4 linked regions of the Homo sapiens genome follow. The protein of the gene in region 3 interacts with the protein of the main gene of each other region in a pairwise test. Each region holds a gene or a part of one and is shown on either strand. Other genes may lie near its edges. The genes, in order: FAM161A, VEZF1, RUBCN and BRD1.

The links.
Region 1: the proteins of RUBCN (region 3) and FAM161A interact in binary tests that used the Homo sapiens proteins (3 or more experiments, as listed by UniProt).
Region 2: the proteins of RUBCN (region 3) and VEZF1 interact in binary tests that used the Homo sapiens proteins (3 or more experiments, as listed by UniProt).
Region 4: the proteins of RUBCN (region 3) and BRD1 interact in binary tests that used the Homo sapiens proteins (3 or more experiments, as listed by UniProt).

Annotation. Positions count from the first base shown.
Region 1 is NC_000002.12:61,837,031-61,844,067, forward strand, and holds part of FAM161A (protein FAM161A), read right to left. Parts: intron 5,331-7,037; coding exon 5,092-5,330; intron 3,552-5,091; coding exon 2,391-3,551; intron 1,676-2,390; coding exon 1,508-1,675; exon of another isoform or gene 915-1,507; intron 1-914. UniProt on the Homo sapiens protein: Involved in ciliogenesis.
Region 2 is NC_000017.11:57,971,218-57,978,254, forward strand, and holds the end of VEZF1 (vascular endothelial zinc finger 1), read right to left. Parts: intron 3,684-7,037; coding exon 3,256-3,683; 3' UTR 335-3,255; downstream 1-334. UniProt on the Homo sapiens protein: Possible transcription factor. Specifically binds to the CT/GC-rich region of the interleukin-3 promoter and mediates tax transactivation of IL-3.
Region 3 is NC_000003.12:197,677,870-197,684,906, forward strand, and holds part of RUBCN (run domain Beclin-1-interacting and cysteine-rich domain-containing protein), read right to left. Parts: intron 6,349-7,037; coding exon 6,288-6,348; intron 5,571-6,287; coding exon 5,438-5,570; intron 4,747-5,437; coding exon 4,601-4,746; intron 4,031-4,600; coding exon 3,966-4,030; intron 3,499-3,965; coding exon 3,260-3,498; intron 1-3,259.
Region 4 is NC_000022.11:49,772,766-49,775,893, forward strand, and holds the end of BRD1 (bromodomain-containing protein 1), read right to left. Parts: intron 2,981-3,128; coding exon 2,826-2,980; intron 1,652-2,825; coding exon 1,468-1,651; 3' UTR 518-1,467; downstream 1-517. UniProt on the Homo sapiens protein: Scaffold subunit of various histone acetyltransferase (HAT) complexes, such as the MOZ/MORF and HBO1 complexes, that acts as a regulator of hematopoiesis.

The sequences.
Region 1 (7,037 bases), on a different chromosome or scaffold from region 3:
ATTTTTTTAAATTTTTTGTAGAGATGGGGGTCTCATTATGTTTACCAGGCTGGTCTCAAACTCCTGGGCTCAAGCAATCTTCCTGCCTTGTACTCCTGAGGTGTTGGGATTACAGATGTGAGCCATGGCATCCAGCCTTTGCTGTTATTTTTTTCCCCTAAATAAGATCTCCTACAGGTTAGTGGCAAAGTTAATTCAATGGGAGCAAGTCAAAGGAGAAGTAAAGAGCATGGGAATACAACATAAAGAGAAACAGGAACCAAAATATATAAATTTACCGTAAGTGTTCTCACTGTTTGAGCAAGATCCTATAATAAATTAAACTACACTATTTTCTCTATGTAAGATATAATTGCTACCAAGATAAATAAGATTAATGGATTGGGGAAAATAATTATACTTTTAAATGATAATTAGGCTTAATTATACACAAGTTGGTGTTATGAAAAAGCTATTGTCCAGGCACGGTGGCTCACGCCTGTAATCCCAGCACTTTGGGAGGCCAAGGTAGGCAGATCACCTGAGGTCAGGAGTTTGAGACCAGCTTGGCCAACATGGCAAAACCTCATCTCTACCAAAAATACAAAAATTAGCTAGGCGTGGTGGTGAGCACCTGTAATCCCAGCTACTCTGTAAGCTGAGGCAGGAGAATCGCTTGAACTCGGGATCCAGCCTAGGTGACAGAGCGAGACTCTGTCTCAAAAAAATAAATAAATAAAAAATAAAAAGCTATTAATAGTTTACTTCCTAAGGGTAAGTAATCTATTTCTAAGAAACATTATGCTCACGTTCATCAAATTAAGCTCCCTTTATCAATGGATTAAAGCTAAATTATAAAAGAATACTCATTGTAATTAAAAGCACATATGCATATTTAGAAATCAGATTAAAAAGTAATAAATCACATTACTTACCTGGCTTTGAGGGAGATAGTTTCCTACTTAAACATCAACATTTTTATGTGCAACATCTGGAACACTGGTTTTCAAACTTTGTACTGCAAAATTCTAGTGAAGGGGTTCTAAGAATTCCGTGAATATTTTTATATTGAAACTAACAAAATGCAACACATACTACTAAACATTAACATATGTGCTAATGAACACATCACATAACCGATGTTTAACGTGTTAATTTGTGCTATCAGATTTCATCCAAACCTTAGAACAAAGCTCTTTGATATATCTGTTTACTGCAATCAAAAATAATATAAAGAACAAGATCAGATATTGGTATAAGATTATAACCATTAACTAAGGCCACAATAGAAAATGTCTGTATTCATCAACATAGCTTCATGGTTCTCACCATAAAGGTGAGTTTATATGTTGGTTCTCACCATGAGGTGAGTGTGTGTGCACTGAACACAAGTAACTGATGACAATTTAAATCCATAAGCTAAAACACTAATGCTATTTTCAATCTGCTCATATTTTACTATCTACTGATTAAAAAAAAAAGAGTTTGAAAACCAGTGGTCTGGAGATTCAAGATTTTTTCATGATACCTGAGACATTTTACTCTGGATTTAGATATTTGAGCTAAACTTTGATGTGAGTCATAAGCCTTAGCCCGGGTTGTCAGGAGTTTCTGCAATTCTTTCATTCTTTGCTTCTGTTTAGTTAGGATCCGATTTCTCTCTTCTTCCAACATTTTCTTTTCCTCAAGTGATCTCCTGAGGGTAACAAACTAAGGCTTAATCCACTTTAAGCCAATCAGAATGTTGTTTAGCAAAGATTTAACATGGGATAATTTGAATTTTGATAATTCAAAATTTGAAAAAAGGTAACCTTTTGAAAAGGATCTGACCTGTAAAACTAGAAATATTTATTTATTTATTTATTTATTTATTTATTTATTTATTTTTTTTGAGATGGAGTCTCGCTCTGTCGCCCAGGCTGGAGTGCCATGGCGTGATCTCGGCTCACTGCAACCTCTGCCTCCTGGATTCAAGCGATTCTCCTGCCTCAGCCTCCTGAGTAGCTGGGATTACAGGCACCCGCCACCACGCCCAGCTAATTTTTTGTATTTTTAGTAGAGATGGGGGTTTCATTATCTCGGCCAGGGTGGTCTTGAACTCCTGACCTTGTGATCCACCTGCCTCGACCTCCCAAAGCACTGGGATTACAGGTGTAAGCCACTGTGCCCAGCCAGGTAAAACTAGAAATCTTAAGACTATTATTTTCTAATCCCCCAAAATTTATAAATGAAAAATATATTCATTTCTTAGAATACCCTCTGACAAAATATCATATATTATATAGTAAAATATCTTATAGATACAATAATAATTTCTAAGTATTTTCAAATTTACCAACATAAACTCCACAGAGCTGCATACACTCATCTGGCAACCATGAGTCAGTCAGTACTGCGTCCTACTTACTTACCTTACGGCTTGTTCTCGTCCTCTGGAAGATACCGTGGGCACGGGAGGGTTGCAGTTACAAGGCACAGGGTTTACACCTGCACATCTTACTGGTGACTTACGCCTTGGAGACAAATAAGGCCAACGTGTTTCTTTTAAATTTTCTTCATCTGCTTCGATGTCTGCCAAAATTTTTTCTCTTTTAATAGATGCATGTGGAGATGCATGAAGATCAAATGGTTTACACACTGTTAAGAGTTTTGGAGACTTGTGTTCTGAGAGGTGTTTCTGGTATCTCTCAGGAAGGTCCTCAAAATCAGGAGTTGGGCACCTAACCTTGTGTTTACACTTCAACTTTACAGCCTGTTCAGGACACCTGGGGTTCCTGCATCCACAAGCTGACCTACAAGGCAGAGGAGATGAGTTCTGTAAATGCTCCTGGGCTCTCAGCTGTGTCCTAAGGTTTCGATAGAGCTCTTCTTCTTTTAACTTGTCATTGGTAGTTGAACCATAAGTAGATCGAGGAATGGGTCTGGCTTTAAATCGATTTGTTTTCTTTTTATACTTAAGAAAGTCTCTCAGCTGCTTTTCCCGGGCTGCTCGCTTCTGTTCCTCCCTTGCTATAAATTTAAATGGCTTTTGTGAGGCCAAAAGAGCTTCTTTGCTTTTCTCCTTCAGAGACCTTCTCCGTTCTTCTTTTTGCTTGACTAAATCATGGTAAAGGGGGAGAAAGACAGATGCAGGAACTGGATTGGCTCGGAATTTCTTCTTATACTCTGGATCCTCTTCTTGTTTTTTGAGCGCTTTATGTACCATTTCGATATCTGATTTAGATTTCATGGACTCTTCTTTTTTCTTCTGTTCTCTTATCATCATTTGAAAAGGCTCCGGTACTGTAATTGTGGGCACCCATTCTTTTCGTTTCTTCCTTCTTTTTTCAGCTGCATGGAAGCCAGTATCTTTACAGCGAATATAATCCTCAACACAAAAGTCTGTCCACATATTGTTGATGAGCTCCTTAGCATAGGTCATCATTCTGTTTTTCCTAGGATACTCTTTTTCTAGGTTGGGTAACTCCTCTTCAGAGGAGGACACATACAAGGAGGAAGACTGGCCTAAATCAGGCTCTGAAAATGATGTCATTAATGAGACAGGGTGATAGGAGTTCTTTTCTGATACAGATCTAAATGAGAAGAATAACTATGTTATACTTTCAGTTGTATGTGACCAAATATAAAAATTAAGAGTTACATATTTTCTTTTTTTTTCTGAGACAGAGTCTCACTCTGTTGCCCAGGTTGGAGTGCAGTGGTGTGATATCGGCTCACTGCAACCTCCACCTCCCAGGTTCAAGCAATTCTCCTGTCTCAGCCTCCCGAGTAGCTGGGACTACAGGCTTGTGCCACCATGCTCAGCTAATTTTCTGCATTTTTAGTAGAGACAGGGTTTTACCAAGTTACCCAGGATGGTCTCAATCTCCTGACCTCGTGATCTGCCTGCCTCCGCCTCCCAAAGTGCTGAGATTACAGGCATGAGCCACTGTGCCCAGCCAAGAGTTACATATTTTCTAAGATCAGGGTATAATCAGAAGCGAGGAGCTGGACAGGGCTTGTAAGAATCATCACTTTTATTTGGAATAGAGCTGGGCAATGCCCATAAATTATCCACTTTGACTCCTTCATTTTACAGGGAAGGAACCTGAGATGGCAGAGGGTCCTTGTGTCTAACCTCTATTAAATTCTCCCCACTTTCCAGAGTCACTGTCCTGAAGCATAGATCTGATCATGTCATTCCCCTGCTTGAAACTTTTTGATAATTCCTCACTGCTACGAAGTCAAGCCTAGATTACAAGCCCTTCGAGACTGGCGCCTATCTTTTCAGTCTTACCCCTCACCACTGGCTACCCCAGTCTCCATTCTGCATTCATATCCAGTCCTGTGAAGTTCCTCACACACGATATGATTTCTCATGCCATCTTGCCTTTGCATACATGGTTTCTGCTGCCTAGAAGGCCAATACTTATTCCTCCTCCAAGACTGAACTCAGATGTGACACTTTAGTGGAAAATTCTGGCCTGCATCCCTCTGAAAGCTTGGCATGACCAACTGCTTCTTCCTCTGTAACACTCTGTTACATCATGCTGTAATGCAATTTTTGGTTCTCAGCTAGTCTCTAAGCTCCTTGAGGGCATCTTGTTTTTGACTCCTCAGCGCCCAGGCATAGTCTGGCACAAAGGAGACATGCAAGCATCGCTGACTGACTAGATGTGTAAGTCTCAGAGCAGGTGAGTTCACAGCAGAAATGGGTCTTGAAATTGCAGACTATTTTGAAAACATAAATCAGATTCATGTCTCCTAGTCCTGAACTCTTTGTACTAGATCTTTAATGAGCTCATGTTAATCCACATATTATAAAGAGCTTTTAAAATTAAACTTTTATATTTACCAGTTAAAATGGCACAGACTAAGTATTTTGATACATGCCCTCAGTTCTATGGGTGGGTCAGAAAGAAAAGACCAAATGGCCACCAAATGACCCTCAAGCAAACGGTCATCCAGTAAGCTGATAAGCCATTAAACATTTTGAATAAAATCCTACCTCTGTATATCGTTGGGAGTACAAAGGGCTATTTAAGAGAAAATATTATGAAGTAACTTTGTTCTGTCCTTTTAAGGATACATTTTATTTTATACTCCACAAATAACATTGAGTTACAAGCTTACCTGGAAGAGTCACTAAGAGAGTCTTCTCTGATGACCACTGGCTGAACTTCCTTTAAATGTAATTTATCCTGGTACATTTTCTCTAATTTTGCCATAGTTTCTATGTGGGCAGCCTTCAACTCTTCTACTTTCTTGAAATACTCCTCATTAGAGTGGTGAATATCAGGAAAGTTCACAAAGTCCTCATAGCTTATCGGTGCATGTTCATCCACCCCAGAAAAGCTGGTGTTCAAATCAGCCTGGTGGGGAGAAAACACTTGATATATAGTGACTGGAGCTGAAAGACAAATTAAGCTGACACTGATCCAAAATGCTGCTTCTTAAAGAGTCCACCTAGTTAGGTTATACATTAATTATGGGCTATGCATATAGAATGAGTTATAGGTTATTTGTGGGCTATGTACATTTTCCCCAGTGATATTTTAAGAACGAGAGGGAGCAAGACCAAACTGTCAGAAAATAAATGTTATTTAATCCATTTGATAAAGGATGGTTCAATTCCCAGATCAACCAACAAAAGGTATAATAGGATAGAACCCAACAACCCTTTACAAAGTATTTCTATAAGGAGCCTCCTGAGTTGTAAGTTTTAACTGAGATGAAGAGGAACACGGTTCTACCTGCTGTAAACCAGGCAACCACAGCCCAATGCTCTCCCTCCAGCTGCGCTCCTGCAGTGTGGCTCCAAGGACTGCCAGTGGAGAGAAGGCAGGGAAATAGAGGAAATGGGGGCAGGGACAAAGTTCTCAGTGGCTTATCAAGGAGCCAGGGAGAAGCCCTCCTCACAGTGGGGCAAGACTTTGGGAGGGAGTAAGAGGACATGGGAGGGGGTAGGAGGGACTTTCAGGGTAGCTGCTTCTGTGGGCACAAAAGCAGTAGCTCCCATGGGTGACCGGGACTTTAGGATGACAACAAAGCAAAGAAGAAAAAATGCTGTAATTATTCAACATACAGATCATGTTTAGAAGGGTCTGACTGGCCTTTCTCCCTCACTCCCTTTACATACCTTTCAGTTTTTTTGTTTGTTTGTTTGTTTTTACGAGACGGAGTCTCACTCTGTCACTCAGGCTGGAGTGCAGTGGCACCATCTCAGCTCACTGCAACCTCTGCCTTCTCCTGCCTCAGACTCCCAAGTAGCTGGGATTACAGGCGCACACCACCACACCCAGCTAATTTTTGTATTTTAGTAGAGACGGGGTTTCACCATGTTGGCCAGACTGGTCTTGAATTCTTGACCTCAGGTGATCTACTCGCCTCGGCCTCTCAAAGTGCTGGGATTATGGGCATGAGCCACCGTGCCCTACCCTTTCAGTTCTTTTAATTGAAGCAACTAAAGAGATAAAACCCCATTTTCTCCATAAATATAAAATTTTTATTATGTTCTCAGTTGAGAAACAGTTGAAATTATTTATGATACTATGCATAAAAGGCTGCCAACCACAGTTTTAAATTTAGCCTACTGTCTGGAACAGATGCAAAATGAAAAAATTTGCTACAGAAAATTATAGATCCAATCTGATAAGACTCTAGAAAATAATCTGTTTAGCTTCTCTCAAAATAAAAATTCAGAAGAGTCAATTATAAATAGTAGTTATAGATGTGGTATTTTTGTTTCCCACTGGAGGCTTCTCAGAAGATATGGTATTTTTTTTAATACGCTAAAATCAGCATACAAGAGGACAATGTTGTACTACTTGGGGTAACTTAAAGAAAACAACTTTTAAAAAATCAGTCTTCAGAGGCCGGGCACGGTGGCTCACGCCTATAATCCCAGCACTTTGGGAGGCCGAGGCAGGTGGATCACGAGGTCAGGAGATTGAGACAATCCTGGCTAACATGGCAAAACCCCATCTCTACTAAAAATACAAAAAATTAGCCAGGTGTGCTGGCGGGCACCTATATTCCCAGCTACTCGGGAGGCTGCAGCAGGAGAATGGCGTGAACCT
Region 2 (7,037 bases), on a different chromosome or scaffold from region 3:
AAGCCCCTTTCAACTAAGGAAATTGGGTCCTAGAGCATGAGAAGAAATGTTTTAAACCCATCTTCTCTTTTGGGTAGGACAGGGACCTAAACCTGTGGCCACTGCCTCCATCCTAGCTTCCTGGGCCTTACCTGAGCTGCTTGGGAGGGTGCACCTACCAAGGGCAGTCAGTCTGGTGCCCTTCCACCCTCCAACCAGCCTGATACTGGTCCCTCCCTCTCTCTCCAACCCAATACTGAGATGTGCGCACCTGAAAAGAAAGTACTTGAAAAATTCCTCTATTATCAGAGCAAACTGATGAAGCTTCTGAGGTATTAAACAATCCATCATAACATTTGTGACCAGTTAACTTTAATTTTCAAAATAAATCTGCAGTATTTTGCATGTTAGTAATACAGTGCTGGTATTGACAGGTAAAATCATCATCTGCTTACATAGAAACCTTCATTCAGGAGCACACCGTAGGAGGGGAACGGATACACAATAAAAAGCAAACGCAGGCCAAGCAGCGAGCCCTAGAGCGTAACAGGCTGGATGTCAGATTTAAGGATTATCTAATACAACTGTTTAGCTGCCAATCTGATAAAGGGGAAGCTCTCAACCAGGTTACAACCAGAAGGGAAAAACGTACTCTGCCTTTTCGTAGAGCAGTGGCTGTCGTGCCTTCAACACCTGGTTGAATCAGTTCATCAACATCGAAACTCAATTCCAGTTCCAAGACACAGAATTTCATCACACAACCTATTCGGTACCCCTTTTCAGTGGCCCACCCAAAACCCCCTCCTGCCATCGACTCTCTCCCTCCCAAAAGAAGACATGACGTGGCTTTATTATTGCAGACAAGCTTCTTAAGTGAATAAAGAATGCATACAAAATAGTATTTTAACTGAAGTCATACAATGAAGTCTCACTCCTGTTTATTATACAATGAATTGATAAAACAATTACTTCTAGTATATATCTTTTTTTTTTTAGAACTAATACTTTCAGGGTTCTGACAACCACATTCTAGCTTAGGGGTAGGGCCCACACCTGCCCCCACTGAGGACTGCTCCTTGGACCACTGTGGAGGAAGCCTGGGCTGTCTGAATTGTGAATTATGACTGCCAGCCCACCAGAGATAACAGATCCCAGCAGGCAGAGCCAGAACCCAGTTTTGGGTCTGCATGCCAGGAAATGTGAACTTCCTCCAAATGTGGCCACTGTGCCTCCCAATCCAGGCCTCAGCAAGGTCATTCTTGGGCTTTCCCTACACGAGTCCTTCCAGTAGTCCACACATAATGCTCTACATATTAAAAACAAACCATTTTTGTACTGTGGATAAGAACAGTTGTAACAAAGTCATAGCTACATATTTTTCTCTACATTTTGTTTATTGAGACAAACTAATTAAAAGGCACAAACATAGGGCATGTTTACATGGACATTATAACAAACATATACATTAAAAGTGTAGGAATGTGTTGCCTTCCTGCTAAACAGAAAGTTCCTAAGCTTTTATATATACAAAAGTTGTACAATTTAATGTCCTAAAGTACAAAAGATCATTTATAAAATTATTTTACACTAAGTACTATTTATTTTATTTTTTTACTATGTAGTTCAACCCCCTAGAACTGTTTTGTATAATGACACACAGATACCTGTCCCTGATGTAGGAAGTCTGTCTCAGATGCAAGGTATTTTGATGCTTGAACTGACACAGTAGGGTATAAATGGAAATCATCCAGTTTGATAGTCAGTCCTGCAAACATTCTGCAAGATTAACACAACTAATTTCCATTTCTCTTAACTGCAATGATTAAAAAATGAAAAAAACCAAAAACATATTGCAACTTAAAAAATCACAGCATCTTGGTTTAGTTAATTTTTTTTTTAACGCAATGCTTTAAAAACAATGCGTGGCATGATGGTGTAAAGAGTATCTGTTTCCCTAGCTTTTGGTTTCTACTTTATGTACAGAGATAAAATATCTTGCTAAGAAATAAAAAGCACATGTCTCAACGTGCATAATCATTGCTGGGTTTCTACAGGGAATGCAGACAGCTGTCTCCCTGAAAACACCACAAAGCTGATACAAGTGTTTTCTCAAAGAAAAAAAAAGTGATGTCCATATTTACAAAGTTGAACAAATCTGCGCAATACTTAAGAAACGGAAGGAGAAATTTAAAAAAAGATACACTCTGCATGTTCTGAAGGGGCATACACTACCTAGTTAGTGGTTAGAATAAAAACTGTATACAATTTAATATAAGACATAAACTCTAGTGAGCAACTAACACATCTGTCCCTGTTGTAATATCAACAGGCTCTGATTGGGAGAGAGAGGGGCATATCACATCCCAGTGCCTCCAGCGTCTTCCAATTTAAAGCAATATATTTGTACTGTTCCAAAGTACTCCTTGGCTCCTAAATAGGAATCCCACTGGACTCTGTTTATTAGGAGCTTGCCTGTCCACACACTTGACTTCTCCTCTGTCAGTTGAGGCTTTTCTTAGCAAAACACAATTTGTAGATTTTTTTTAAATTTTTTTTTTTTTTAAAAAGTCAACTACAATGCTATATTCCATCGGGATTAATATGCTGAGCAATATTTACATCTCCAAATATCAGGTCACAATCCCTATTATACGTTGAAGTTAGAATGATAAATTATCATATGCTTTGCATATCAGAGCTGGTATCACCTTTCCCATAGGGAATGCTGCCTGAAATTAACATATTCCCAAAGGTAAAATGCATATTCTCTGAAATGCATTTTATTATGACAATGCATGTATTTACTCATAAAAACAATAAACACAGACAATTCTACACTAGCTCTCAATCTGTGGATTTAAAATTTCAGGTTAAAATCAGCCATCCACCTTGTATAGGGAGAAGAGTTCTGCTAGTGTTTACAATAAAGTGATTCCTTGGGATTAGAAATAGTAATGCTGTTTTTTTATTTTGAAGTGGGTTCTACTTATGATTGGTTTTAATTCTGGCATTTCATCTTGCCAACTACTATCCTGTTTAAGCAATGTTGTCAGCTAAAAGGAATTTCTGATTAAACTAAAGTGGTCCAGTGATAAGTTACATACACACCCTACTTTGAATAATCCCAGCCAAATTGGAGAAAAATGCTACCACACTCTTATTAACTAATGTAATAAAATCTCCCAATTTCATGGTTTACTTTTTGCTTTAATCAACTAAAAGTTAAGTTGCTGGTAAATATTTACTTTTACCCATATTTTGATTTTATAATACTGTTTACCAAGGCGGTGATGTAGGCAAAGCTTGGGGCAAGAAAGGCATGCTCTCTACAGGTCTCATTGCTATATTGAGAGGGGCGGCTAATGTCATAGGTGTGGGTAGATTCATTGGAGATGTGATGGTGACAGGGTGTGCTATATTCACTGGGGCAGTGACGGGGGTGGGGAGGTTGACTGGGGTAGTGAGTGTTAAAGGAGAGGTCATGGATAATGGACTGGTTATAGTTACAGGATGCCCTATGTTCATTGGGCTGGTTATGTTAACTGCACTTGAAACATTTACTGGACTTCTCATGCTCATTGCAGCTGCCACTGTGACTGGGTTTGACATAGTCCCAGACGACACAGAGGATGTTATACTGAATGGAGTAGTGAGAGTCACAGGTGTCGTAGCAGCCGTGGAGGTTTGGCACAGGTTAGCAGCTTCTAAAATAAGAAGAAAAAGGGTCTTTAGATTCTCAAAACAGTGAGCAAAATTCACAAAGTTTCTGAATCAATTTCTTTTCATTAAAAATGTCAAACATTTAATAAATCAAATTCCAGTTTTCTATCAAGCGGTCAACAGAACAGAGGATCTTTCTGAGCACAAGCCTGGGGGCCAGGGATCCCAGTGTATGAATCACCTTCTGATGCTATACCTCCTGCAAGGACTTAAGCAACTTGTTTAGCCTTGCACTTTAGGTTTCAAGTTCAGATTTACTTACCTACCTCACAGTGATGCTGAGAGGATCAGTTAACTTCTGCAATGCAGGGCTAAGTGTTCTCACTACTACTTCATGCAGTTCCTCTGAGTTCTAAAAACTTTCTTGGGAAGAGCCAACCTCCAGCAGGCCAGGCTAAAGAGCTTGTTTACACAGAGCTGGGCCAATGGTTACACAATAACAGATAATCAGAAAAATCTTCTCGTAAGGCACACTGTAACTAGCAGAGAGAGGTGTGCATACTCAATAAGTATGTTAAAGCCTGAGACATGAAGCCACATTCTGTGAAGGTTTTAAAAATGCATAATTGGGGAATGATAAACAAGCTATTTTAGTATCATGTTTGTTTCAGTTTTAGAAATATGTTTCAGTTAAATAATCTTATTCTTTCTGGTTATGTTTCTTAACTACATTAGGAAAGAAAAAAATACTCCTCAATAAGTTCATGTTCTCCTCACTCCCATTTCTTCTTGTTTCTGATGTTGACACAATCACCTATTTTATGCCTAGTATCTTTAACTCTACATATTACACATACCACCAAGCATACCAAAGAGAACTAGCTAGGCAAGGAGACCCTGCAGTGAGTTAGAGGACCCTGGTCCTTCTTATCCAACAAAACCTGGACACTTTTTTTTCTGAGACAGGGTCTCCTTCTGTTGCTCAGGCTGGAGTGCAGTAGCATGATCAAAGCTTACTGCAGCCTCAAACCCTCAAGGCTCAAGCAATCCTCCCACTTTAGTCTACCAAGTAGCTGGGACTACAGGTGCATGCCATCACGCCCAGCTAATTTTTGTGTTTTTTGTAGAGACTGGGTTTCGCCACGTTGCCCAGGCTGGTCTCCTCCTAGGCTCAAGCGATCCGTCCACCTCAGCCTCCCAAAGTGCTGGGATTAAGGTGTGAGCCAGGTCTAGACACTTCTTAAAAAATACTTCCCCTCAAGGTGACATCCCCAACCCACCCCTCAACAAAATTCAGCACCAGAAAACAGCAGTAAAATGATGGGTAGGCTAGCTGTGACTTGGCTATCAAAATGGAGAAATATACTTGAACTAAAGATAGAGATCTGTATATGATCCACAAAGGTCTTATCACCGCAGGGGGACCCTTGAGTCAAGCAGCCCTTACTTGATCAATACAATGTAACTTTGGCACACACCATTCTCCCTATCAGGGATTCCCAAATCTGGCTGATTATCAAAATCAACTATCTAGAGGACTTCAAAACAAACAAACAAACAAACAAAAAAAACCCAACAAAACAAAAACAAAGGACTCCAGGAGAATCAATAGTGAAATTTAGATGGAACTTGGGAAATGTGTATTTTTAAAAAGCTTCCCAGACAATATGATTGTCGATCAGGTTTGAAAACTTATGTTACCTTATTTAGGCCTAATATTTAAAGGACGTTATAGATTCAAGCTTAGATTTTCAGGTCAGGAGTCTCCTCTCCTCTAAAATGTGACATTTACTAACATGAATACAGAGGTTTCTAAGATCAGTGGTCTTTTTGAGAGAGATTCACGCTACAAATGGGAATACAATAACATTTTGTTTCATGGAAGTCAGAAGATGAGCTAAACAACCAAGTCTTATTGTGCAAGCAAATTGAAATACAATACCAAATAGAGGAGTACACCGAGAGAGATTGAGAGAGAAAACCAATTCACTTTAAGGTGCTGGGAGTATTGCTGAGGATATTCTCCACCTGCTTTCACCAAAGAATTTTTACTCTCTTATCTGCTGACCCCCTTACCTCCTCCTCCGTGTTTTCTTTTTAATCTAAGAGTGTCCTTTTACTATGACTTAAACATTTTTACTCCTTCTCTAAGTAAAATACCCTTCATAATATACTTTCAACCCACTATACAATTATCACAGCACTACACTTTTTCCTCCCCATTGCCCGTCCCCTCTCCCCATTCTAACACAAAAGTTCATTTGTTTTGTTTTTTTTGAGATGGGGGTCTCAATCTGTTGTCCAGGCTGGAGTGCAGTGATGCAATTGTAGCTCACTGCAGCCTCAAACTCCTGGGTTCAAGTGACCCTCCCACCTTAGCTTCCTGAGTAGCGGGGACTACAGACACGCACTGTCACGTCCGGCTAATTTTTTGTTGTTGTTGTTGTTTTTGTAGAGATGGGGTCTTGCCATCTTGCCCAGGCTGGTCTCAAACTCCTGGCCTCAAGTGATCCTCCCACCTTGGCCTCCTGAAGTGCTGGAATTATAGGTGTGAGCCATCACACCTGGCCAAAACATTTTATTAAAATAATGACAAATCTTCAGATGGAAGCTAGGAACAAGCAGCACCTGAGGAATGATGAAAAGCCTATACGGACTGCTGCATTCTTTTCTTCCAATGCCAGTAAATGTATGAAAAAGAATGTCGCCAGGGCCCAGTAGCTCACGCCTATAATCCCAGTACTTTGGGAGGGTGAGGCGGGCAGATCACCTGAGGTCGGGAATTCGAGACCAGCCTGACCAACATGGAGAAACCCTGTCTCTACTAAAAATACAAAATTAGCTGGGCGCGGTGGCACATGCCTGTAATCCCAGCTACTCAGGAGGCTGAGGCAGGAGAATCGCTTGAACCTGGGAGGCGGAGGTTGTGGTGAGACAAGATCATGCCATTGCACTCCAGCCTGGGCAACAAGAGCAAAACTCCATCTCAAAAAAAGAAAAAAAAAAAAAAAGAATGCTATTCCTTTTATTTTTATCCAAGTATAGGAGGTTTAGAGATCACTCTGGCCAGGTGTGGTGACTCATGCCTGTAATCCCAGAACTTTAGGAGTCTGAGGCGGGTGGATCACTTGAGATCAGGAGTTCAAGACTAGCCTGGCCAACATGGCAAAACCCTGTCTCTAGTAAAAATACAAAAATTAGTCGGGTGTGGTGGCACACACCTGTCGTCCTGGCTACCCGGGAGGCTGAGGCACAAGAATCACTTGAACCCAGGAGGCGGAGGCTGCAGTGAGCCGAGATCACGCCACTGCACTCAAGCCTGAGCAACAGAGCGAGAGACTCTGTCTAAAAAAGAAAAAAAAAAAACAGAAGGGATCACTCTGAGGAAGGGAAGAGCC
Region 3 (7,037 bases):
GTCCTATGCTCTAACTCGACACCTGGCTTCAGACTGTCCCACACTCTGACTGACAACTGGCTTCAGACTGTCCTACGCTCTAACTCGACACCTGGCTTCAGACTGTCCCACACTCTGACTGACAGCTGGCTTCAGACTGTCCCACGCTCTAACTCGACAACTGGTTCCAGACTGTCCTATGCTCTAACTCGACACCTGGCTTCTGACTGTCCCACACTCTGACTGACAACTGGCTTCAGACTGTCCTACGCTCTAACTCGACACCTGGCTTCAGACTGTCCCACACTCTGACAGCTGGCTTCAGACTGTCCCACGCTCTAACTCGACAACTGGCTTCAGACTGTTGTATGCTCTAACTCGATACCTGGCTTCAGACTGTCCCACACTCTGACTGACAACTGGCTCCAGACTGTCCTATGCTCTGACAACTGGCTTCAGACTGTCCTATGCTCTAACTCGACAACTGGCTTCAGACTGTCCTATGCTCTAACAACTGGCTTCAGACTGTCCTACACTCTGACAACTGGCTTCAGACTGTCCTACGCTCTAACTCGTCAACTGGCTTCAGACTGTCCTATGCTCTAACTGACAACTGGCTTCAGACTGTCCTACGCTCTAACTGACAACTGGCTCCAGACTGTCCTACGCTCTAACAACTGGCTTCAGACTGTCCTACGCTCTGACTGACAACTGGCTTCAGACTGTCCTACACTCTGACAACTGGCTCCAGACTGTCCTACGCTCTGACAACTGGCTCCAGACTGTCCTACGCTCTAACTGACAACTGGCTTCAGATTGTCCTACGCTCTGACAACTGGCTCCAGACTGTCGTATGCTCTAACTGACAACTGGCTTCAGACTGTCCTACGCTCTAACTGACAACTGGCTCCAGACTGTCCTACGCTCTAACAACTGGCTTCAGACTGTCCTACGCTCTGACAACTGGCTCCAGACTGTCGTACGCTCTAACTGACAACTGGCTTCAGACTGTCCTACGCTCTAACTGACAACTGGCTCCAGACTGTCCTACGCTCTAACAACTGGCTTCAGACTGTCCTACGCTCTGACAACTGGCTCCAGACTGTCGTATGCTCTAACTGACAACTGGCTTCAGACTGTCCTACGCTCTAACTCGTCAACTGGCTTCAGACTGTCCTACGCTCTGACAACTGGCTCCAGACTGTCCTACGCTCTGACAACTGGCTTCAGACTGTCCTGTGCTCTAACTGACAACTGGCTTCAGACTGTCCTATGCTCTGACAACTGGCTTCAGACTGTCCTATGCTCTAACTCGACAAGTGGCTTCAGACTGTCCTACGCTCTGACAACTGGCTTCAGACTGTCCTACGCTCTAACTCGACAAGTGGCTTCAGACTGTCCTACGCTCTGACAACTGGCTCCAGACTGTCCTATGCTCTGACAACTGGCTTCAGACTGTCCTACGCTCTGACTGACAACTGGCTTCAGCCTGTCCTACGCTCTGACTGACAACTGGCTTTAGACTGTCCTACGCTCTAACTTGTCAACTGGCTTCAGACTGTCCTACGCTCTAACTGACAACTGGCTTCAGACTGTCCTACGCTCTGACAACTGGCTCCAGACTGTCCTACGCTCTGACAACTGGCTCCAGACTGTCCTACGCTCTAACTGACAACTGGCTCCAGACTGTCCTACGCTCTGACAACTGGCTCCAGACTGTCCTATGCTCTGACCACTGGCTCCAGACTGTCCTACGCTCTGACAACTGGCTTCAGACTGTCCTACGCTCTAACTGACAACTGGCTTCAGACTGTCCTACGCTCTGACAACTGGCTCCAGACTGTCCTATGCTCTAACTGACAACTGGCTCCAGACTGTCCTACGCTCTGACAACTGGCTCCAGACTGTCCTACGCTCTGACAACTGGCTTCAGACTGTCCTACGCTCTAACTGACAACTGGCTCCAGACTGTCCTACGCTCTGACAACTGGCTCCAGACTGTCCTACGCTCTGACAACTGGCTCCAGACTGTCCTGTGCTCTGACAACTGGCTTCAGACTGTCCTACGCTCTGACAACTGGCTCCAGACTGTCCTACGCTCTGACAACTGGCTCCAGACTGTCCTACGCTCTAACTGACAACTGGCTTCAGATTGTCCTGTGCTCTGACAACTGGCTTCAGACTGTCCTACGCTCTGACAACTGGCTTCAGACTGTCCTACGCTCTAACTGACAACTGGCTTCAGACTGTCCTGTGCTCTGACAACTGGCTTCAGACTGTCCTACGCTCTGACAACTGGCTCCAGACTGTCCTACGCTCTGACAACTGGCTCCAGACTGTCCTACGCTCTAACTGACAACTGGCTCCAGACTGTCCTGTGCTCTAACTGACAACTGGCTTCAGACTGTCCTGTGCTCTGACAACTGGCTTCAGACTGTCCTACGCTCTGACAACTGGCTCCAGACTGTCCTACGCTCTGACAACTGGCTCCAGACTGTCCTACGCTCTAACTGACAACTGGCTCCAGACTGTCCTGTGCTCTAACTGACAACTGGCTTCAGACTGTCCTACGCTCTAACTCGACAAGTGGCTTCAGACTGTCCTACGCTCTAACTGACAACTGGCTCCAGACTGTCCTACGCTCTAACTCGACAAGTGGCTTCAGACTGTCCTACGCTCTAACTGACAACTGGCTTCAGACTGTCTTACGCTCTAACTGACAACTGGCTTCAGACTGTCCTATGCTCTAACTTGCTCTAACTCACTCTGACAACTGGCTTCAGAGTGCCCTCTAGTCAGGGAAGGCCCCTCCGCCAGGTCTGTCTGCCCGAGTCACATAAGCAGTCTGGGCAGAGGAGTGCTCCGAAATTCCAATTTCTTACTCGATACCCGATTCCTCATTCATTCACTAATGTTTTTAGTGAAGGAAGAAATTCTGCTTTTGCCCTCAAGTGCTATCTACAGCTTCCTAGCTGCCATTGCCACGTTTGAGGCTCCAACTAGACAGATAACCTGGGAAATGGGAAGAGATTAAGAAAGTACATAGTGAGGGCATGAACGGAGAGACGGTTATAGCTTTGACACTGCGATAACAAGAAGTGTGGTAATTGTGGGAAGCCCTATATAACCAGGGGAGGGGACAAGGAGAGGAGACGAGGGGAGGGGATGGGGGGAGGGGACAAGAGGAGGGGATGGGGGGAGGGGACGGGGGAGGGACGAGGGGAGGGGATGAGGGGAGGAGAAGGGCAAGACTCTAAGGTGGCCTTTTCCAAGGTCTTACCCGGACTTGATTGAGCAGCTTGACCTTCCTATAGAGGGCACTGTTTATGTCCTGCACGTTGAAGAGAGGATCATTCCAGATCTTAATGAGCAGGTCCTTGGAGAAGTTGCTGACGTAGTACTTGCTGAAGTCCCACTTGCGCAGAACCCGGCTGGGGATGGCCATCTGGGCATTCTCGTGGCAGCACTGGCAGAAGTACTTGCCCAGGTACTCACAGTACCGCAGTCGCTTGATGTAATCTGGAAAAACCGGAAAGCCAGAAAGCCAGATGTAACTTTCCCATCTACAAGCTGGGAAGGCAGCTCTGCTTTTCCCTTGAAAGGGCAGAGAGGGACAGCCAATGGCCTCCAGCAACCTCTGTCTGAGTTCCCCAAAGCTTGCAGAAATCCACATAGTGGATCCTGGGGTGATAATGTCCTACCTTGGAGGCCCTGAGGAAATAAAACCAGCTGGAGATAGTAAGATCCCGCCTTACCAGCTAGCTGGAACTACCCAACTTTCCACAGGATACAATCCTGGCCATGTGCTCCCAGAAATCATTTCCCTCCGATTGCCAGCACTCTTGCCTACTACGAACCTTTCTTTCTCCTTCCCTACTTCTGCCACGCCACCTCCTGCTACCGCCTTTGACACGCCACCTCTCCCTACGTGTCGGGGAGGGTACAGAGCCTCTGGAGGCAGCATGGTGGGAAGGGAAGGCACTCACCAGGGTCAGTCCGGATGCCACATCCTGCACAGCGGTAATTCTGCTTGGCCACGGCAATTTTCCTCCTGAGGAAGGGTAAGGACAGGGCATTGGCACAGAGCAGCTGCGTGAGACCTTGGAGGTGTGAAGGAGTGAGCACACATACATACAGCTCCAGTTAAGTATGGGAAGAGAGGGGAATTCACCTACATTTTAGTTGGACAAAAATGAACCTATTGGGAGAGCTAACTCCATATAAGATTTAGGTCTAGGCAGTCACTCTGCCCAGTAAGGAACCACACATTCTGTACAAATATAAGGAATGAGATGTGGTAAAGGAGAGAGAATGACAGGAGAGAAGAGCATCCATCTATCTTAGAAAGAGAAGAAAAACCAGCAAGCCCACACAACTACTGGGAGGAAAGCTACAGGTTGGGAATGCCAGCAAAACAAAACCCGCCTCGTTTCCAATTAGCTCCAGGAATTAAGAGTAAGAAACGAAGGACCAAATGGACGACGCCCCCCCTCTGCCTTTAAATGAAGAGAACGGTGTGGGAAGGACAGCTGGAGGCAGGGACAAGTGGGTGAGACGAAAACCCTGACAATCCAAAGAGGACGGATCTGTGCTCCAAAGGGCACAGACACTGGCCACTCACGTTGGGGCTGGATGAACATTAAAAATTATCTGAGGCCGGGGCGGGGCCCACTCCAAGTTGCCACGAACACGAATCCGCAGCTTGTAGATGTCAGCGTGCTGCCCGTCATCCGGTGAGATGGGCAGTGAGTCAGGAATGGGCAGGAGCTGCAGGAGGAAAGCACAGTTGGGGTAAGCTCGTGTCAGTGTGCTGCCCGTCATCTGGTGAGATGGGCAGTGAGTCAGGGATGGGCAGGAGAAAAACACAGTTGGGGTAAGTTCACACGGACGGGCTTGAGAAACAGAAATGCGGGACCCTTTTGGCCATGACAGAGCATAATGAGTGAAAGACATTTCAGGAACACCACAGGATAAGGGCTTCAGGGAACCTCAGAAACAACCAGGAGGCGCCAAGGTACTACAAGTGAGGGCCGTGGGTTCCAAGAAGCAAACAGAAACAGCCTACCAGGGCAGTGGCCCCACGGCTCATGCTGTCCCTGCACCCATCCCAGGACCCTTGCTGTGCCAGTGTGTTTCATGCCTTAAAGACAACTGCAGAGCAAAGAATCCAAGCGATTTACTTTTGCGTAGTGTCTCCGAGGTGGTCACAAACCAAACATGACTGAGTCTGGCGAGCAGTCACGTGAATAAGGACCGCGAACGCGCCGTCATCTCTGCTCTGACAAGGTGAGCAAGCATTCACTCGTTCATTTATCACTTGACACATTGTAATGAATGGCTTCCACGAGTAAGGGGGGAACACCCAGGCTCATTCCAGACTAGGGACATGTGACGAAGGAAAACAAGGTCACAGAGGCTCACGATGGCCCCTGGGTAGGAAGAAGAGCTAAGGACCTACCTTCTGAGGGGCATCATGCTCCGGGACAAGCCACTCCAGCTCCGAGGCGGCTGGAAGCTGCATCCCCTCAAACTGCTTCAGGAGCCCCATGGCCACCGCCTCAGCAGACGTGGAGTGCAGGAAGCAGTGGGAGCTGGAAAGGGGAGAATCAAGGACGGCTGAACACAGGGAAAGGATGGGCGATGCGAGGCTTCCCTTCATGATCTCATCCCCCACGCAGCAACTTCTGGGCTGGAAGAACACCCGCAGCACCCTGGCCTGCTCATCACCCTCACACATGGGACAGTCAAAGTCCACTAGTCTCACGGTCCTAAGACTTCGGTTCAAGCCCCACTTCCTGCCACTGCACGGCACTGCTAATGAAGGACTCTGTCACTTCCTTTCTCTGAACTTCAGCTCCTCTAACAGCAAAATGGAGATTATAATGCCTGCTTACAAAACAAAGTGAGTAAAATTGCTTTGTGGACTACAAAGCGATTTTTCCTCCCAAATGAGCTACTGTGTCCCCTGGTTGGGTCTATGATGTGGAATCTGTTCAATTTGATTTCATAACCAAAAACCATCATCACTGCTCTCTTTTGAGACCTTCTGGGGCCTCTGGTTATGATGAGAGTCAGCAGAGAAGGAATAACTCACTTCCAGCTTTGCCTCCACGAGAGCCCATCCCACTGGGACCAAAGAGCTTCTGCTTTCTTCCCGTGGGCTCGGCACCATCAGCAAGCCCCTCCCTTTAACCTCGCCTCCTCTTACATCTGGATGGCTTTGCCCAGCCATACACCAAGAACTGGGTTTGTTTCTCTACATATCCTAAGGTTTTCTTTTCTTTTTTTTGGTAAAAAAAAGTACTCACAAGGACTGGGAGGAAACGAAGGATTTGCTGCTTGAGGCTGTGTTCCTTCTGATGTCAGCATCTACATGGAAACCAGAGATAAGGGGAGCGCAATGGAAACGGGGTGGGTAAGGGAACCTGGAATCTATTACAAGGTGCTCCCAGCTAAGCTCTCAGGGTAACAGCCAGGTGCCACACTCTATGCAGGAGAAAGGAGCAGGTGAAGCTCTAAACACAGGTTATAATTTGCCTCTATCCAAATCAAAACCAGGCTGAATTAGTAACATTATGCATAGCACTGAAAAGGTCAAAGTGTTACAAACTCAGGCAGAAAGACAAACTCAGCTTTGGTGTAAAACAGTGAATGAGAAGACGAGCATCCTAAGGCACACAGGGACACAACCCCTCATATGCACAAACACAAAACAAAGGACTCAAATCTCTCCCTCACTCTCCACATCTTAACCTTTCTCAAATGGTAAGCTCCCTTAGGCAGTAACTCTGTCTGGCTTATATATATATACATATATATATACACACACACATATATACACATATATATACATATATACGCACACACATATATGTGTGTGTATATATATACACACACGTATATATATACATATATAAAAAACATTTAGTGCCTAACACATAACTGGGATCATAGAGGTTCTCATGAAATATATGTGAAATTGGAACTTTGCTTCTAATATTTCACCACTGTTGCCATTACCCCGAATGTTAGAAGTGTCTGCAGTTTTGCCTCTAACA
Region 4 (3,128 bases), on a different chromosome or scaffold from region 3:
TCAGGCTGTGGGTGGCAGAGAAGGGGTGCAAACTGCACCCGCCATTAGCTGGGCTTCTCGGTGGTAGCCCTGAGTGCTCCACGGCCTGTCCCCACCTGGCTCCTGCACCCGCTTCCTTTCTGCGTGGGCTTCCTTTCTGCGTGGGCGGTGAGTGATCCTGGGGGCCACCAGCTGCTCGTGGTGGGGAGGGGCCTGCCGGGCGGGGCTGGCTGTGGGAAGGAGAGCCACGACAGATAGGAAGCACCTGCCAGATGCAGGACAGCAACTATCTAAGGAAGACTTGATTTCCAAGTTTCTATGGAGATGTTACAAACGGTGTAGGCTTAAAAAAAGCATTTAAAACTTTTATGTAACTGAAGTTTTAAAATAAAAATATGATCAGGTGAAATAACAAATAATGCCATCCCATGACAGTTTTCAAGATAAAGGCGTGTCCCCGCCCCCTGCAGCCAGCACCCCACCCGTCCTTGGGGCTCACCTAGCCGTCTAGGGCTGTAGGAATAAAATGGCCACACCGTCCAAATCTTGACTTTATTTTTAATATAAAAAATGCAAATTTGGAAACCCACCCTACTTTCCCCAACATAATGCTTTACCTCTTAAAAATAAAAATAAAGTACTAATTCTATATACATCACAGGTACCATACAAAAATGTATCCAAAGTTTCTATTGCTACCAAAGTGTTCTAAATTAAAACAAGTTACAGAAAGCCCCTCATTGTAAACAAAAGATTACAAGTTATAAAATCAAAGTACACACAGGCCAGAGTCATTTATACAATGCAATGCATTCTGCTCCCAAGCCAAGTTGAATTTTTATGTGCCTGTATAAAAATGCATATCAATATACCTTTGCAAATGTATTTTTCATTATAAAGCAAATGAATACACTTTCTACAATAAATAATCCGCTGGGAGGCACACCTGCGGGGTTTGAGGTGGGCGGGACGACGGGAGCGGGGACACACCCACCGGCGGTCACGGGCAGCGGAGTGTTTTTGGTGATCTGCAAGTGATGTACACAGCATAACTTTATTCTCCCCTCTTTCCACAAAGTACCATTCAAAATAATGTCATTTTCTTTCTTAAAATACACATTTGTCATTGTAAATTTACATCCCGTCTTATTAAATAAGTGGTACTCTGTGTAAAGAGCATGATTTACAAAATTATTAAACATTCAAAAGTCTTTAAGAAAAAGCTACATATCAAAGAAAGTGACGCCAGCAGCACGGCCTGGGGACGTGCGACAGACGCACTGGGCTGCCCGGACGTGCCCACCCCACTCACAGCGCCCAGACGGAGATGGGTTCCTAGAAAACTTGGAAATAAAACCTCCCCCCTCCCCGGGGAAAAAGAATTAAAGAGCTATAACTAAAAATCAGAATAAGTTAAGTTTTGAACAATATACAAACATGTACAGCTTATCAACACTATGGACAAGACCCGCGCTGGCGGCCGGGCCGTCAGTCAATGTCACTGAGGTCGCTGGTCGGCTCCCCGTGGACGCGGCTCAGGTGGTTCATGGCGCGGTCAAAAGCGATCCGCACGGCCTTCCGGATGCTGGAATTCCTCCCTTCCATCATCTTTAACTTGTCTATAGTTTCGTCAATACCAAGGGGAACCATTTTGGACTTAGGAAGCCACTGCCTTTTTAAAAGGAAAAACAAGCGGAAAATCATTGCTTGCACATGGTATTTCAGCAGGCTCCATGTAATCATCTAACAAATTCACTGCCCTCCGATAGAAAGGGGCCCTGCTCAGCACCACCAAGACAGCTGGGCCCCGTGCAGGGACAGGCCCGAGGCCAGGAGTGCACCCCTCCCTTCCCCTCCCCGACTTGGGGATACGGGGAGCTAAGTAAGGCATAAAAACCATCACCTCCTCCTCCACCTCCAAAACGTTTCCCAGTGCCTGCTTAGTGACAAGACATGCACACACCAAGCCCAGAGTCAGGGTGGGCCCTGGAGCAGAGGCCGGTGGTTGGGGAGACCCCATCAAAGGGGCCCTCGGATGGACAAGGTGTGGGCCTCGCTCAAGGCCTGACAAGAAGCAGTGGCCACGTGGCCAAAGAGGCAGAGGTCGAGGCAAGGAAGAGAAAGACGGTAGGGATGCCTGTGCTGCCAGTCCTGCTCCAGGCACACCATAGGCAGGTGGCCCCGAGCCCCTGCGCCAGGTCCCAAGTGCAGCCAGCTCCACGGGGAACCAGGAAGCACCTGCCCGGGCCACGTGCGCAGGGCACAGCCGGGGCCACAGCTCCTCCCAGAGGCATGTGCTGCCAGCGTGTCCTGCACAGAGGGATCTTGGGGTCTAAACCCTGGCACATGAGGGTCCCAGACGCTCTGGGGAAAAGCAGCTCAGGGCACAGGGGGAGCCTCCTGTGATGGGGTGGATGTCTGAGCAGAGCTGGATGATGCTGGGACAGAAGGCTCTAAGAACAGGGCCAGAGGCCAGGCCCGGGCAGGGGCCATGTCCTGCAGTACAGGGGTCCGGGAGCACAGCAGAGGGACCCCCAACACTGGAGCGGACACATGGGTAAGGAGTAGGGAAGAGACAGTCCAGACCAATGGGGCTCAGGCGAGAGGGAGAGGAAGCCATCGGGCAGAGACAGACCCGGTGCTCAGTGCCCGTCCCACAGTCCCGGCGAGGGGGCTGGGCAGTGCCCTTCTCCACCAGGCAAACAGCGGAGCACTCACCTCCGACTTTAGCTGTGCCAGGGCCCAGCAGACAAAGACGCTGCTCACCACAGGGACACTCAGGTCACCGAGCCCACGGCCCCCAACCACCCCAGCCGGTCCCCGGAGTCTAAGGCCTCTCAACTCACCAACTTCTCTTATTATCAAAAAAGAGAACGAGGAACAGCTTCTCATCAGACTTGGTCTGCATGTGCTCCCCAATCTTCAGCACGTCCAGGGGTGGGGCCGGGATGGTGACGCCGTTGTGGTGGCCAGGCACACGGGGCATCTTGGGGTCGATGATCTGCACGAGAAGGACCCGCTGAGGTCATTGTGAGGCTCACACCCATAAACAACCCCACCTGTCACTGGCACCCCCCCCCGCCTCCCCACCCCAGCTGTGTGAGCCTCCTCAGACCACCCCCACGCCCCCCTCGCCGAACCACCCCTGC